Regions from separate parts of the Homo sapiens genome. Here region 2 is linked to region 1. A link means that fine-mapping ties the variant in region 1 to the expression of a gene that starts in the linked region. Tissue or cell type: sun-exposed skin. Region 1 holds a variant in brackets; the other region holds the start of a gene. All regions are shown on one strand. Distances are from middle to middle.

Evidence for each region. PIP is the estimated chance that this variant, and not a neighbour inherited with it, causes the effect.
Region 2: PATJ starts here. The variant in region 1 is fine-mapped to the expression of PATJ in sun-exposed skin (GTEx, PIP above 0.99).

Annotation. Positions count from the first base shown.
Region 1 is chr1:62,117,662-62,125,926 of GRCh38, reverse strand. PATJ (PATJ crumbs cell polarity complex component) reads right to left here. Exons shown (of 44, transcript NM_001350145.3): 38 at 4,632-4,746; 39 at 2,869-2,906. Among named protein-coding and RNA genes, the nearest start is that of MIR3116-2, 43 kb to the right of the region's middle. The variant T/C (reference allele first, on the strand shown) is at 3,229.
Region 2 is chr1:61,738,156-61,746,155 of GRCh38, reverse strand. It overlaps PATJ (PATJ crumbs cell polarity complex component), which reads right to left and starts at 3,676. Exons shown (of 44, transcript NM_001350145.3): 1 at 3,601-3,676. PATJ-DT (PATJ divergent transcript) reads left to right here and starts at 3,372. Exons shown (of 1, transcript NR_185910.1): 1 at 3,372-4,158. RefSeq lists a silencer at 3,215-3,924.

The DNA of each region.
Region 1 (8,265 bases):
GTGGTGGCACGCACCTGTAATCCCAATTACCTGGGAGGCTGAGGGAGGAGAATGACTTGAACCTGGGAGGTGGAGGTTTCAGTGAGCCGAGATTGCACCACTGCACTCCAGCCTGGGTAACAGAGTGAGACTCTGTCTCAGGAAAAAAAAAGAAAGAAATTTATGCTTGGATCACGTGTGGTAGAATAGGGTAGGTAGGAGCAGGCTTTATTACAAAAGCCTGTAAAAACAAGTGGCTGAAATGACTAAGGAAATATAAAAGAATATTATTTTTGAAATCTTAGAGGAGAAATTTATGCAATAATGTTTTGGCTTTGTTTAAATCCATCATGATGTTTCCTTAATTTATCTATAATTATATATACTGTTGGTACATTTAACTTCCCCATCATAGGAACATTTGAGTTGCTACTCTGGTGGAAAAATACCGGGAACAAATAAGGCAGATTTAGTCAAAGCTGTAGCTAATAACAACAGAAGCCACTTCCTGGGCATTCCTGATGCACTAGGTGCTATGCTAAAGACATTACATTCATGACCTCATGTAATCCACACAATAATATTTACCTTTGAGGTGAGTTAGTGTTATCACCCCCATTCTACAGATGAGAAAATTGAGGTTGAGTTGCTAACTATTATAGAGCTAATGGCGTTTTTTTTTTGTTTTTTTTTGTTTTTTTTTTTTTTTTTGAGACAGGGTTTTACTCTGTCACCCAGGCTGGAGTGCAGTGGCATGATCACGGCTCACTGCAGCCTCAACCTCCTGAGCTCAAGCGATCTTCCCACTTCAGCCTCCCAAATAGCTGGGAGCTGGAACCACAGGCATGCACCACCACGCCTGTCTAATTTTAAAAGAAATTATTTGTAGAGACGGAGTTTCCCCATGTTGCCCAGGCTGGTCTCAAACTCCTGGGCTCAGTGATCCTCCCACCTCGGCCTCCCACAATGCTGGGATTACAGGTATGAGCCACCGCACCCAGCTGTACAGCTAATGTACAGGCTGAATTGGGTCCCCCTAAGATTCACATGTTGAAGCCCCAAGTACCAGGGCCTCAGAATGTGACTGTATTTGGAGATAGGGCCTTTAAAATGAGGCCAGGGTGTGCCCTAGTCCAATGTGACTGGTGTCCTTATAAGAAAAGATTAGGACATAGGAGAGACACCAGGGATGATGAGTGACACACAAAAAAGGCCACGTGTGGCTACAGCAAGAAAGTGGACATCTGCAAGCCAAGGAGGGGGGCCTCAGGAAAAGTCAAACCTGCAGACACCTTCATCTTGGATCTAGCCTTCAGAACTGTGAGAAAATAAATTCCCACTGTTTAAGCCACCCAGTCTGTGGTGTTTTATAACTGCAGATCTAGCAAACTAATGCAGCTAATAAATGGTAGAATGCCTTCAAACAGAGGTATCATTAAATCTAGAGAAGTAAGTTATGCTGGATATCACTTTACTGCAGTGGATTACCATGATTACAACAGGGTCATTATTTCTTCTTGAACCCCTCATTTAGGTCAAAGTGAGCAAAATAAAAGTCTACTTTTGGCCGGGCCTGGTGGCTCATGCCTGTAATCCTAGCACTTCAGAAGGCTGAGGTGGTCGGATCGATTGAGGGCAGGAGTTCGAGACCAGCCAGGCCAACATGGAGAAACTGTGTCTCTACAAAAAATACAAAAATTAGCCGGGCGTGGTGGTGTGTGCCTGTAGTCTCAGCTACTTGGGAGGCTGAGGCACGAGAATTACTTGAACCCAGGAGGTGGAGGTTGCAGTGAGTTGAGATTGCACCACTGCATTCCAGCCTGGGCAACACGGTGACTCCATCTCAAAAAGAAAAAGAAAAAGAAAAAAAGAGTCTACTTTCATTAGATATCATCACACAGGAGTCTGAAAATCAGGGTTCGACAAATTTATGAATGAAATACATCTTATATAATCTTCTCAAAAGGGAAATTTAGCAACATGTATAAAAGCCTCTAATAACAAGCTTGGCTTTTGACCCCCAAGTTTCATTTCTAGGAATTAATCCTGAGGAAGTTACTCATGATTTGGGCAAAAATATAAAGATGTTTTACTATAAAAGATAGCAAAAATTGAGAAATATGCTAATTGTTCAATAATAGGAAACTGGTTAAGAAACTTATAGCACATTTGGCCGGGCACGGTGCCTCACGCCTGTAATCCCAGCACTTTGGGAGGCCAAGGCAGGTGGATCACGAGGTCAGGAGATCGAGACCATCCTGGCTAACACGGTGAAAACCCGTCTCTACTAAAAATACAAAAAATTAGCTGGGCGTGGTGGCAGGCGCCTGTAGTCCCAGGTACTCGGGATGCTGAGGCAGGAGAATGGCATGAACCCAGGAGGTGGAGCTTGCAGTGAGCCGAGATCGCACCAGTGCACTCTAGCCTGGGTGACAGAGCAAGACTCTGTCTCAAAAAAAAAAAAAAAAAAAAAAAAAAGAAACTTATAGCACATTCATAAGATGGAGTACTATGAAATCGATAAAAATCATACTATATGCTCTCAAAAAATACTTATTTAGTATGTGCCACATGATACCATTTTTGTTTTATAAAACTTTACATGTACAGGTTAAAAGACTAAGATTGAAAAAATAAATAAATAAAAATAAAACTTACACATAGCACAGAATATAGTGGATGAGATTTGCCAAAAAATTCATAGAGGTCATCTCTGTGCTCTACTGTACTTTTCTAAGTCTATTTATTGATGTTATTTAGACCATATTTTTATCTCAGTAACTTGAAAGAGCACACTCACAATCCAATAAACTGTATTGGGGAAAATGTACATTTAGTGCAAATCCAACACAAACCAGAAAAATACATACAGCAAAATGACTGACTTACCCTGTTTATCTCAACAGTCCTTGGTTCCATATCTGTGCCTATAAAGAAGCAACACAATTAACTTTTTAATATTAAAAAATAATATATTTAGCATATAATATTGCCCCATGAAAAATGGTTTCATTTTCTAGGTCTTTCAAGAGAAGACACTAAAGCAAGCAGGTATTGTACCCTTCCTCAGCATCCAAGCTGGTAGCCAAGTCACCAGGGGCCATGTCCTCTTTTTTTTTTTTTTGACACAGAGTCTCGCTTTGTCACCCAGGCTGGAGTGCAGTGGCACCATCTCAGCTCACTGCAACCTCTGCCTCCCAGATTCAAGCAATTCTTCTGCCTCTGCCTCCAAATAGCTGGGATTACAGG[T/C]GCCTGCCACCACGCCCGGCTAATTTTTGTATTTTTAGTAGAGACGGGGTTTCACCATGTTGGCCAGGCTGGTCTCAAACTCTCGACCTCAAGTGATCCACCTGCCTCGGCCTCCCAAAGTGTTGGGATTACAGGCGTGAGCCACCGTGCCCGGCCTGCTGTGTCCTCTATTTTAAAGAAGTGCTCTCTGTTTGAGATCAATGTGGCCATAACCATTTGGTCTGACAAAAGTGGATGGGCTATATAGCAGCAGCTGCCTGGAACATGGTGAGTAAATGCTTGGAGGATGACTCATTTTTGTGTGTGTGTGTGGTTTTTTTTTTTTTTTTTTTTTTAGATGGAGTCTCACTCTGTCGCCCAGGCTGGAGTGCAGTGGTCCGATCTTAGCTCACTGCCATCTCTGCCTCTTGGGTTCAAGCGATTCTCCTGCCTCAGCCTCCCAAGTAGCTGGGATTATAGGCATGTGCCACCATGCCCGGCTAATTTTTGTATTTTTAGTACAGGCGAGGTTTCTCCATGTTGGCCAGGCTGCTCTCAAACTCCTGACCTCAGGTGATCCGCCTGCCTTGGCCTCCCAAAGTGCTAAGATTACAGGCATGAGCCACCGGGCCCGGCTGAGTCATTTGTGTTTCATTGTACATTTTTTTCTACCTTAATCAAAGATAACCCTCCATTCAACAAAAGACTTAAAAGGACCCCTTGTCCCACCCTGCCCCCAAGGATATACACACTTTTTTTTTTCTTTTAACTGGCCCAATTTTCCCATAGAAGGTATACACACTTCTGACCTTTCTCCAGTGACCTGTAATTTATTAATTTTCTCTTTGTAAGTAATTTTATTTTACCATGCACTCCAGCTTTCTGCTTTTCTGTTTTTCAGGTGCTTTGTGTTGTGCCACTGAAGGAATTTCTTTTTTTTTTTCTGGAGACGGAGTCTTGCTCTGTCACCCAGGCTGGAGTGCAGTGGCACGATCTTGGCTCACTGCAACCTCCACCACCCCCGCCAGTTTCAAGCAATTCTCCTGCCTCAGCCTCCTGAGTAGCTGGGACTACAGGCGTATGCCACCACGCCCGGCTAATTTTTTTTTGTATTTTAATAGAGACGGGGTTTCACGGGGTTAGCCAGGATGGTCTCGATCTCCTGACCTCAGGTGATCCGCCCGCCACAGCCGTCCCAAAGTGCTGGGATTACAGGTGTGAGCCACCATGCCTGGCCACCACTGAAGGAATCTCTATGGCTTTCCTACCTTCAGAACATGCCTTTCAGAAAGCTCAGCTTATGTGGCCAAGCTCAAAAAATTAAAAAACATTTATATTAAAGAAGACTGGTTTTTAAAAAACACATTTTTTTTTTTTAATTTGGGTAACAGGATAGTTTTGCTCTGGGTGTGTCCGTGTAATACCTGAATTTTTCTGGGAAGGATCTGAAACTCTTTTTGTGCCAACCAGGTTTTGCAGGCCAGTGATGACAGGAGCGAAGGAGGGATGACAGCTGCTGTGTGCACTCTGCTGACTACCCTGAAAGAAAGACCCAGGGGTCACCTGTGTGCAGACACTGACTTGACCCCCTAAATGCATACTTATCCATTAGTGTGCCAATTACTGATGTCACCATAACCATCTAACAGAAAATCGTGAGGAGGCCAGGAAAGAAAACAAAAATCACCCACACTATTCTCTTACTACCTCAACCCAATCCCATTTAGACATTTCCTCCATTGCTTTCTCCATTATGTGTGCTTTTGTATATGGTTTCAATCACCAAGGTGGAGACCATAGAATCATTTCAGCTGTTCTTGCTCCACATAAAATCAAAACCATTTTCCTAGGTTGCCACATAGTGTTTATGTATATATAGTCAGCTAATGGGCACTATGTTTCATTTGGGGTTACAGTCAACTTTATTACCCAAAATGTATTATGTATTTTGCTAAAACAAGTATAATAAGACCTTGATTAGCAGAAACCTGCCAAAATAGAACCCTCAATTGTGGGGAAAAAAGCACCAAATCTGAAGGGAAAAAGACTTGTTTTAGGGATATATAACATTTTTTTCTCAAAGATTTTCCTAGAATCAGTAATAATTTAGTCCAATCTGCTAGATCTCCATTACCTGTCCCTTTATTCATTTAAATGAATATGTGAGGTTAATACTGTGTAGTCTTTTAAGGCTAGTGGCTGTTCAACAAAAACTGTATACATAGTGAAGGGCCTTTCTTATGTAGACGAAAACATTGCAAATAATGAATATTTTTTTCTACCAAATTATTCTGCATCAAAATTTTAAGCTAAGCCTAAGATCACTGTTATCAGTTCATAAATTATAATTTGGTCCATTTTCTTAACTCTATGATGAAAGTTGTTTAATATTTTAATTCCTAAAATATGAAAACCTTCAAATATATAGAAAAGCTGAAAGAATTATACAATAGACATCCATATAAATAGCACCTAGATTTCACAATGAGTATTTTGCTATATTTCCTTTATCACATAGCCATTTATCTATTCATCACTCATCTTTTTTTAAAAAATTCATTTCAAAGTAAGTTGTAGATCTCAGTATACTTCATAGTGGCTATATACATTTAAAGGAGTGTTTTTATACTTTTCCTTAAAGGATATGATTTAAGTAAATGGTACTATAATAGATAACTAATCAGAACTGAGGAAGTACAGTATATTATAACTTTTGCCTTTAAAAAATTTCAGAAAGGTGTGTTTGCCAAGACCTTTATTGCATTGTATTGTAATTTTTGAGGAGTCTCCCTCTGTCACCCAGGCTGTAGTGCAGTGGTGCAATTTCAGCTCACTGCAACCTCCGCCTCCCAGGTTCAAGTGATTCTGTTGCCTCAGCCTCCTGAGTAGCTGGGGTTACAGGAGCCCACCACTATGCCCAGCTAATTTTTGTATTTTTAGTAGAGACAGGGTTTCACCAGGCTCTTTGGCCAGGCTGGTCTTGAATTCCTGCCCTCAAGTGATCTGCCCGCCTCGAACTCCCAGTGCTGGGATTACAGATGTGAGCCACCACGCCCGGCCCCAAGACGTTTATAAAAGTACACTTTGCCTGACTGTGTTCCCTTAGTTGGCTGAGGAAAAGATCTCGCAAGTATTTTTTCCTCTGTGGAGTAAGGAAATTTCTTCCTGGTTTGGGGGAAAGTCATTTTAAAAAAAGACACTTGGTGGCCCCAAAGCTAGAAGTTATTTCTCTCTTAATGAACTCACTTTCTATGAATTAAGTCAAGAGCTTATTCTCCTTAGCGCTCAAAAGAAGGCATTGATCTCCCTATTTTGTAACTGCTCAGAAGGAAATCTGTGTTCCTACAAGATCCTGATTTTTTAAATGGGTCTGGATGTAAAAATGTTTGGCAATGGAATCTTGTTTTTGCCCACCAGGGTCAGTCTTCAACTCATCATGATGGGAAGACATTTCCTTTTCACAGTCGGCTACCAGCCTTCTTCTAATTAGCCAAATAGGGCAAACTCTTCTATCTCACCCATAATTTTAAGCACAAGGTGATGATAAGATATATTTACTGTTTTTAAAAATTGAATTAAACTCCTACCCTCTGAAATTAAAATTCTGTGTAAGAAGATTAGGGCAAAGTATTTGATACTTTGTCCCAGGTTTCCAAAATATGACAACTCACATTCATATACCAGGTAAGTGGAGACGATAGGTTTTTTTTTTTTTTGATATTTAATGATGTAGCTTCTAAATTTGGTAGTTCTGTCTTTGAGTGTGAACTTAAAAATTATGAAGATGCGGCTGGGCGCGGGGGCTCACACCTGTCATCCAGGCACTTTGGGAGGCCGAGGTGGGTGGATCACCTGAGATCAGGAGTTTGAGACCAGCCTGACCAAGATGTTTTGAAACCCCGTGTCTACTAAAAATACAAAAATTAGCCGGATGTGGTGGCGGGCACCTGTAGTCCCAGCTACTCGAGAGGCTGAGGCAGGAGACTCACTTGAACCCGGGAGGCGAAGATTACAGTGAGCTGAGATCGCGCCATTGCACTCCAACCTGGGCAACAGAGTGGGACTCCGTCTCAAAAATAAATAAATAAATAAATAAGAAGATGCTCACATACATCTCTCAAGAGGGACAGAAATCCATTTCTATCCACTACCTTACCTATCGATCAGTCCAAACTTTTCTTAAATCACACAAACACCTGTTACCTCTTTGTGCCTTTGTGTATGCTATTTTCCCTGTCTGAGATGCCTTTTCCTTCTTTTCCCCAAACTCCATTTGGAGTGAGATTCAATGGAACCTCCTCTGTGTAGCTTCATTCTAATCTTCTGTATACAATAAGGCTTTAATGAAATCATTCAACAAAGATGAGTCTTCCATTAAGGAAGAAGCCTGGCTAGACAACTGTTTCGTTTGTTGATATAAGTCTGGTCAATATCATCACTAACTATTAACTCATGGAATCCTACAGCAGCACCATGTCTTAGATATTTGCTGCCCATTATGTAAGCCAGAAATGAAAAAAAAAAAAAGTGTTTCAAACTTAATATGGTGTTTATTGGGTTTGACTGCTTTGAAGATTCCCTAAGACAAGCCAGCTAGTCTGTAATCCTATCTGAACAATGGTATTTTCCTCACTCATTTTTTAACACCAGTGAGGAACAGGAGGCAGCTAATAGCTTTCCAGAAGTAACTGTGTGCTAACTGTAAGATCAGAGCACCTTCTGAACAAAGGCCTTGGAGAGGCTTCAGAAATAAGGCAACCAGGGAGGGGACCAAAAGTCATGCTTTTAACCTCAAAACTAAGGCGGCCTATCCATAACCCAGAGAGGAGACTTAGGGGTCACATATAAGTTTCTATAGTCTCATTATGTACCACATGGGGCTAACCATACAGTCTACCATCTTGATTTTGTCAGCCATTACAATGAAAAAAATATAGTGAAATATACTTTGCTAAAAAAAAATGGCACTTACATCAGCTTTGCAAATAAATATAAGATGTTTGCTAACCCACAAAATATCACCCACTAAGCCCTCCCTCCCACAGGAAAAACCCCCAC
Region 2 (8,000 bases), 380 kb after region 1:
AGCCTGGCCAACATGGCAAAACCCTGTCTCTACTAAAAATACAAAATATATATATATATATTACCCAGTGGTGGTGGCGCACACCTGAGGTTGTGACGCTGAGCCAGGACAATCGCTTGAACCCAGGGAGGTGAAGTTTGCAGTGGGTGGAGATCGCGGCACTGCACTTCAGCCTGGGCAACAGAGTAAGGCTCTGTCTCAAAAATAAATAAATAAAATAAATGAATAAAAATTTTTAAAAAAAAAAATAATTGCCAGGCCCGGTGGTTCACGCCTGTAATCCCAGCACTTTGGGAGTCCAAGGCGGGTGGATCGCCTGAGGTCAGGAGTTCGAGACCAGCCTGGCCAGCATGGTGAAACCCCATCTCTACTAAAAATATAAAAATTAGACAGGTGTGGTGGCAGGCGCCTGTAATCCCAGCTACTTGGGAAGCTGAGGCAAGAGAAGCGCTTGACCCTGGGAGGCAGAGGTTGTAGTGAGCCAAGACAGCGCCATTGCACTCCAGCCTGGGCAACAGAGCAAGACTCCGTCTCCAAATAAATAAATTAATTAATTAAAATAAAATAAAGTAAAATAATTTTGGCTAGGTGCAGTGACTCACGCCTGTAATCCCAGCACTTTGGGAGGCCAAGACAGGTGGATCACTTGAGGTCAGGAGTTCGAGACCAGCCTGGCCAATATGGTAAAACCCTGTCTCTACTAAAAATACAAAAATTAGCCAGGTATGGTGGCACATGTCTGTAATCCCAGCTACTCAGGAGTCTGAGGCAGGACAATCACTTGAACCCGGGAAGTGGAGGTTGCAGTGAGCTGAGATCACCCACTGCACTCCAGCCTGGGCAGCGGAGCAAGACTCTGTCTCAAAATAAATAAATAAATAAATATTTAAAAAAATTATCTGATCTCCCTTGTCTGATTGTAGGTCATAAGACCCCCATAAGAAGGGGTCCTGCCCATACCCTGGAGGAAGGAATGCTACAGAGAGAGGCCAAGAAAAATCTGAACAGATAGGCATTGCTGGGTTTCCCTACCCCATGCTTCAATTATGTCTACTCAATGAAGTCTCCATAAAAAGCCCAAGAAGATGGGGTAGGGAGAGCTTCTCAATATCTGAACACATGGAGGTTCCTGGAGGGTGGCATGCCCCTTCTCATACCTCACCCTGTGCATCTCTTCCTCTTGTATCCTCTGTAATATTCTTAATAATAAACTAGTAATAAACCTAAATAAGTGTTTTCTTGAGTTCCGTGAGCTGCTCTAGCAAGTTAACCAACCCAGAGGAGGGAGTTATGGGATTCCCAATTTATAGGTGGTTAGTCAGAAGCCGGGGTAAAACAATCTAGGACTTGTGATTGGCATCAGAAGTGAGGGCAGTCTTATGGGATCTGACACTATCCCCAGGTAAATAGTTTCAGAATCGAACTGTTAGATGCTCAGCTATTGCTTGATGCAGAACTGATGGGCCCACACATTTATTTGGTCACAGAAGTCCTCAGTGTTGACTGTAGTGGTGTGAGAGCAGAGGAAAAAGTTTGTGTTTTTTCTCTTACTCCTAATAGGATCTGGACTAGTAAGGGCAAATCTCTTCAGAACTCATTTTATAAGTTCTATCCATAAGTATTTCCATATTTATTAACTTTGTTATTATCTTTGTGAAAGTTGCAGATACCAGGTCAAAATCACTTTTTGTCAAACCCAAACAAACTAGAGAGCCTGAGGGAGAAAGCTCATGCTTGCAAGTCTGAGATAAAGATCGGTCTCAAGAAGGAACTAAAATAACCACCCAAGAAATTCTTTCTTTAGGAATGCAGTAATTCAGATAAGATAAGATAAGATAATCTTTTTTCCTTTTTTTTTTTTTTTTTTTTTTGAGACAGGGTTCTTGCTCTGTCACCCAGGCTGGAGTGTAGTGGTGCAAACACCACTCACCACAGCCTCCATCTCCTGGGCTCAAGCAATTCCCCTGCCTCAACCTCCCGACACACCTGACTATTTAAAAAGCTTTTTCTGTAAAGACAGCCATGTTGCTCAGGCTGGTCTCCAACTCTTGGCCTCAAGCGATCCTCCTGCCTAAGCCTCCTAAGTAGCTGAGATAACAGGCATGAGGCAGGTTGCCAGGCCTGATAAGATGCTCTCCATAACACCTGCCCAGTAATGGCATCTTCAACAATGGCCAACTCTGGCTTTCAGTCTGCAAAACCAATAAACTCTGTTTTCACGCAGCTTATCTGCACTTACTTTGCCAATAAAAGTTTCCTTTTACCCTCCCCTCTTCCATGCATATATGGCTTGCCAGGCCTGTGCACCTCGGGCTATAACGCTCATTTCTCATTCCCAAATAAATTCAACACATTTGGAGTGTTTTGTTGTTGTTGTTATTGTTAACATCTTAAAGGCCATTAGGGGCCCTAAAAACATCAAAGCTCACTTTAGCTAAAAGGCTCAATCTCACCTAACATTTTCTAATGCTGCAAACAGATTTAAGTTTTTAACCGCTGCCCCTGCCTCCACTCCTTTCAAATAGATGTGTGCAAATTAATTTGCAGCCAATAGGAATTTAGCCCAGAATGTGGTAGTATCATCCTCAGTGGAACCGACATTGTCCTTCTGGGTTTCCAAAGGCTTCTGCCTTCCTTTAAGAAACACTTGTCGCGCACCTACCAATAGCCAGACCCTAAATGCAGTCGAAAAATAAGGCCCTGAAAGGGGCACCCTCTAAATGGCAGAGGCAAGCCAGTAAACAACCAACTGGAATTCAAAGTGACAAGAGCCACTTGGAAATATGACAAAGTGCCAAGTGAAGGGGTGTTCACTTAATTCGGCCTGCGTGCGGGACGGCTGGGGCGCTTTGGAGAGTGGGAGTGATCTGAAAATGCTTTCCTGAGCTTGATTTAAAAGCAGGAGTCCAGGAATTTCCCCTAAGGCTGGAAGCACTTTCCGACAGAACCTCCCCATCTACGCAGCAAGGCTGGCAGAGCCCAGGGCCTGACCGCTGGCTTGGGAACCTCCGCTACGGGATGACCAGGCGCCGCGACGCGGCCGGGCCCAAGTCGCCCCCTCAGCCCGGCTCTGAGCACCCCCTCCTCTTTGTCCCCTCACCCCGTTCCCTCCTTCCACGGCCACCGATGGAGGGAAAGACTCCGCCCAGCTCTGGGAGCGAAACAGGGGCACCGATCTGGGCGCAAAATAGGATCCGTGCCACCCCCGAATACCAGTGGGCCGAGATTCGAGGCCCGAAAGGCCTGGGGAGGCGGGGCGGCGCCCCTCCCTGCCCGCGGCCTCGGCGAGCCCTGCGCGGCGGGGCGGGGACCACCGTGGGGTCACCCGGGCCCGACGCAGGAGGACGGCGCCCCCGCCCCGCCTCCCGGGTCAGCGCGGACGCACGCCGCGGGCGCCCCATCCTCGCCGCGGCCCCTCTGAGCGCCCGGCGGCGCCCTCCACCTCCGGCTCCCACCCACTCCAGGCGGGCGGGCGGGGAGAGCGCGGGGGCAGGGCAGGCAGGCCCGGGAAGCCCCGAGGGAGCTGCCCCCGGCCGGCCTCCAGGCGCGGGGACACCCAGGGGCGAGCGCGCACTGCACAGCCGGGACCTCACGCTTTACCTGGTGCGCTGGAGGAGCAGGTGGGAGCCCGGGTCGGGCGGGCTCGGTGTCGGCCCTGCCTCACCTGGGCGGAAGTGAGAGGCCCAGGGTGACCGCGCCTCACCTGGCAGGCCCTCCCCTCGCCCCGACTCTCCCCGCCCGGGGCGGGGCACCGGGGTGGCGCAGGGGGCGGGGGAGGGAGCCCGGGGCCGCGGGAGGCGGGCTCCAAGGAGGGAGGACGGTTGCCCTGGCTGTTTACGTGCAGGTGAATTCCTACCGGGCGCGGGATGGCCAAGGGCCTGGGAAAAGTGGGCTGTGGGGGCGGGGTGGCGGATCAGACCGCGCGTGGTGGGGACAGCCGCCACTGACGGGGAGGGAGATCCGGACAGACCGGTGTGGTTGGAGGCCTGCGTGTAGAGCGAGACCCAAGATCAAGGAAATTGAGGAGGATATCGATGAAAGCGTTGGGTCAATCCGCTTAACACTTTGTCTTTTTGCCCCTTTCCTTTCCTGTTCTCTCATCCCTCCTTTGTTTTCTCTATTCGCTGACGCAAAATAAAATATTCTAAAACGTGTAAATGTGGGAGTCATTATTTTCTTCTCATTTAGTGGAAGAAAGAAATCCAGCAGTATTTGCCTGCTGTATGCTAGGTGCTAGCTTATGCAATGTCTCATTTACTCTCTGAAGAAACTAATGAGGAAACCGTGCACCCTGTAGGTTGACTGGCCCAAAGTTTGGAACACAGGCAAGGCATTTTGACTCTAACTACAGTGATGATTTCACTATACGTTAATTTTCTTTTATTTGTGATGTCACACCTTCGAGAAAAATATGTCCCGATAGCCTTCTTCCACTCCCTTTAATAACTTTAGGCTTTTGATGATAGGGGTTTTACTTTGCCTGATACAGTCCACACATTAACGATAAAGAGAATCAATCTTCAGGTATCTTATTCATAGAGTACATACAGTAATTGTTAAACACTGTGATTGATTGTGGGAAGATGTGTAAAATGGTATCCCTGTCCCCAGGAAGATGAGGAATAGATACAAAACAACTACAACATAAAGACTTTCAGGCGGGGCGCGGTGGCTCACGCTTGTAATCCCAGTACTTTGGAAGGCCGAGGCGGGTGGATCACCCGAGGTCAGGAGTTCGAGACCAGCCTGACCAATATGATGAAACCCCGTCTCTACTACAAATACAAAAATTAGCCGGGTGTGGTGGATGCGTAGTCCCCTCTACGCAGGAGGCTGAGGCAGGAGAATCACTTGAACCCAGGAGGCAGAGGTTGCAGTGAGCCAAGATCCTGCCACTGCACTCCAGCCTGGGTGACAGAGAGAGACCCCGCCTCAAAAACAACAACAACAACAACAACAACAATTAGCCCGGAGTGGTGCCGTGAGCTTGTAGTCCCAGCTACTCTGTGGGGCTGAAGTCGGAGGATCACTTGAGCCCAGGGGTTCAAGACCAGCCTGGGCGACAGAGCAAGACTCCATCTCAAATAAATAAATAAATAAATAAAATTAAGATCATGCACTTGGTGCTTTGTAGTTTGCTTCCTTGTTTTAAAAGAAATGTAACACTTGTTAGTCATGGTAAGAAGACACACAATATCAGCATGGTTTCTGCTTTTTAGGAACTAACAAACTACTGAGGGAAATAACAGGCAAATTGCCAGATGGAAGCCAGACCTCAGAAAATGAAGAGATCTATTATGTTTTTTGAAAGCATGGGTTAGAACTTAAACAGGTCTTAACCAGAGTCTGAGATTAATTTAGGTAAAATGGAGAAGGAAAGGCTTTCCAAGTCGGGGGCAAAATAAAGTTGGAGATTGAGTGGGAAAAGGGAGAGGATTGAAAAACTACCTATCAGGTACTATACTTATTGCCTGGGTGATGAAATAATCTGTATATCAAACCCCATGGCCTACAATTTGTCTATGTAACAAACCTGGTTTTTTTGTTGTTGTTGTTGTTTTGAGACAGAGTCTCGCTCTGTTGCCCAGGCTGGAGTGCAGTGGCACAGTCAGCTCACTGCAACCTCTGCCTCCCTGTTCAAGCCATTCTCCTGCCTCAGCCTCCTGAGTAGCTGGGATTACAGGTGCCAGCCACCACACCCGGCTAATTTTTTGTATTTTTAGTAGACATGGGGTTTCACCACGTTGGCCAGGCTGGTCTCAAACTCCTGACCTCGTGATCCACCCGCCTCAGCCTCCAAAAGTGCTGGGATTACAGGCGTGAGCCACTGCACCTGGCCTACAAACCTGTGCATGTAGCTCTGAACCTATAATAAAAATTAAATAGGAAAAAAAAGAAAGGTGGAGACCAATTATCTCAAAGAATCACCTTGCAAACATTGGTCTCTTCTTTTTAAATTTATTTTTATTTATTTATTTTTTAAATTGAAATTGAATCTCACTATGTTACCTAGGCTGGCCTCAAACTCCTGGACTCAAGCAATCCTTCCACCTTAATATCCTTCTTGAAAAGCTGAGATTATAGGCACCACCACTACACCTGGCTATTGCACCTCTTCTTTATTTATTTATTGTAGAGAGATGGTCTCACTATGTTGCCCAAGCTACTCTCAAACTCCTGGCCTCAAGCCATCCTCCTGCCTCAGCCTCCCAAAGTGCTGGGATTACAGGCATGAGCCACCATGCCTGGCCTCCTCTTATTTTATTTTGTATTTATTTAATTAATTAATTTTTTTTGAGACAAGGTCTCACTCTGTCACCCAGGCTGGTGCACAGTGGTGCAATCATGGCAGCCTCAAATTCCTAGGCTCAAGCGATCCTCCCACTGCAGCCTCCCGAGTAGCTGGGACTATAGGCATGCACCATCATGACTGGCTTATTTATTTATTTAGACAGAGTCTCGCTGTTGTTGGCCCTACCCTGGAGTGCAACTGGAACCTCCGCCTCCCAGGTTCCAGCAATTCTCCTGCCTCAGCCTCCTGAGTAGCTGAGATTACAGGCGCCCGCCACCACACCTGGCTAATTTTTGTATTTTTAGTAGAAATGGGTTTCACCATGTTGGCCAGGCTAGTCTCAAACTCCTAACCTCAGGTGATCCACCCACCTCGGCCACCCAAAGTGCTGGGATAACAGGCATGAGCCACCACACCCAGCCTGCCTCTTCTTACTTTAATATTAAATGATGTTGTGAACATATTCCCCTATTTTCAAAAAGCTATGTAACTTTAAGTTGACCATGAAACCAAGTCCAAACTCCTTTTCTTGCTATTCAAGGCCCTTCAAACTCTCCCCTGCTTGCTGACTCTTTTCTTTTCTTTTTTTTTTTTTTTGAGACAAAGTCTCGCATTCCAGGCTGGAGTGCTATGGCGTGATCTCAGCTCACTGCAACCTCCACCTCCCGGGGTCAAGCGATTCTCCTGCCTCAGCCTCCTGAGTAGCTGGGATTACAGGCGCCTGCCACCACACCTGGCTAATTTTTGTATTTTTAGTAGAGACGGGGTTTCACCATGTTGGCCAGGCTGGTCTCAGACTCCTGACCTCAGGTAATCTGCCTGCCTTGGCCTCCCCAAAGTGCTGGGATTACAGGCGTGAGCCACTGTGCCCGGCCCCTTCTTGCTGACTCTTCAACCTAATCTCCACTTCACCTCTGGAGGATCTTACTCTGAGCAAATTTATCTATTCCATATCCATGGAACACCAATGGCTTTTCTGTTCGTTACCTACCCACTTTCCCCTGCCTGGAATGTTCTGTAAGCCCTACCCTCCTTCTAGGGCTAGACTCAAGTCTAACCCCTTCTGAAAAGCTGCCTCCCTGGCCACCCCAGGAAACATCATCTCTATCAGTTTTAACCTGATTTTCTCTACATTTCTGTGCTGTTAATTAATTTTACCTCACCAACCACCCTTCTTCCTTTGTGTTGTTAATTAACTAATTAATTTTTTCAGGCCAGGTGTAGTGACTCATGAATGTAATCCCAGCACTTTGGGAGGCCGAGGCGGGTATATCACCGGAGGTCAGGAGTTCAAGACCAGCCTGATCAACGTGGGGAAAACCCACTAAAAATACAATAATAACCCAGGCGTGGTGGCACACACCTGTAGTCCCAGCTACTCAGGAGGCTGAGGCAGGAGAATTGCTTGAACCCAAGAGGCGGAGGTTGCAGTGAGCCGAGATCATGCCACTGCACTCCTGCCTGGGCAACAGAGCAAGACTCCATCTCAAAAAAAAAAAAGAAAAATAAATAAATAATTGAGACAGGGTCCCACTCTGTTGTCCAGGCTGGAGAGCAGTGGTGAGATCATAACTCACTGCAGCCTTGAACTCCTGGGCCCAAGCCATTCCCCCATGTTAGCCTCCTGAGAAGCTGGGACTACAAACATGCACCACCATGCCCAGCTAATTTTTTAAATTTTTTATATTTAGAGACAAGGCCTCTCTAT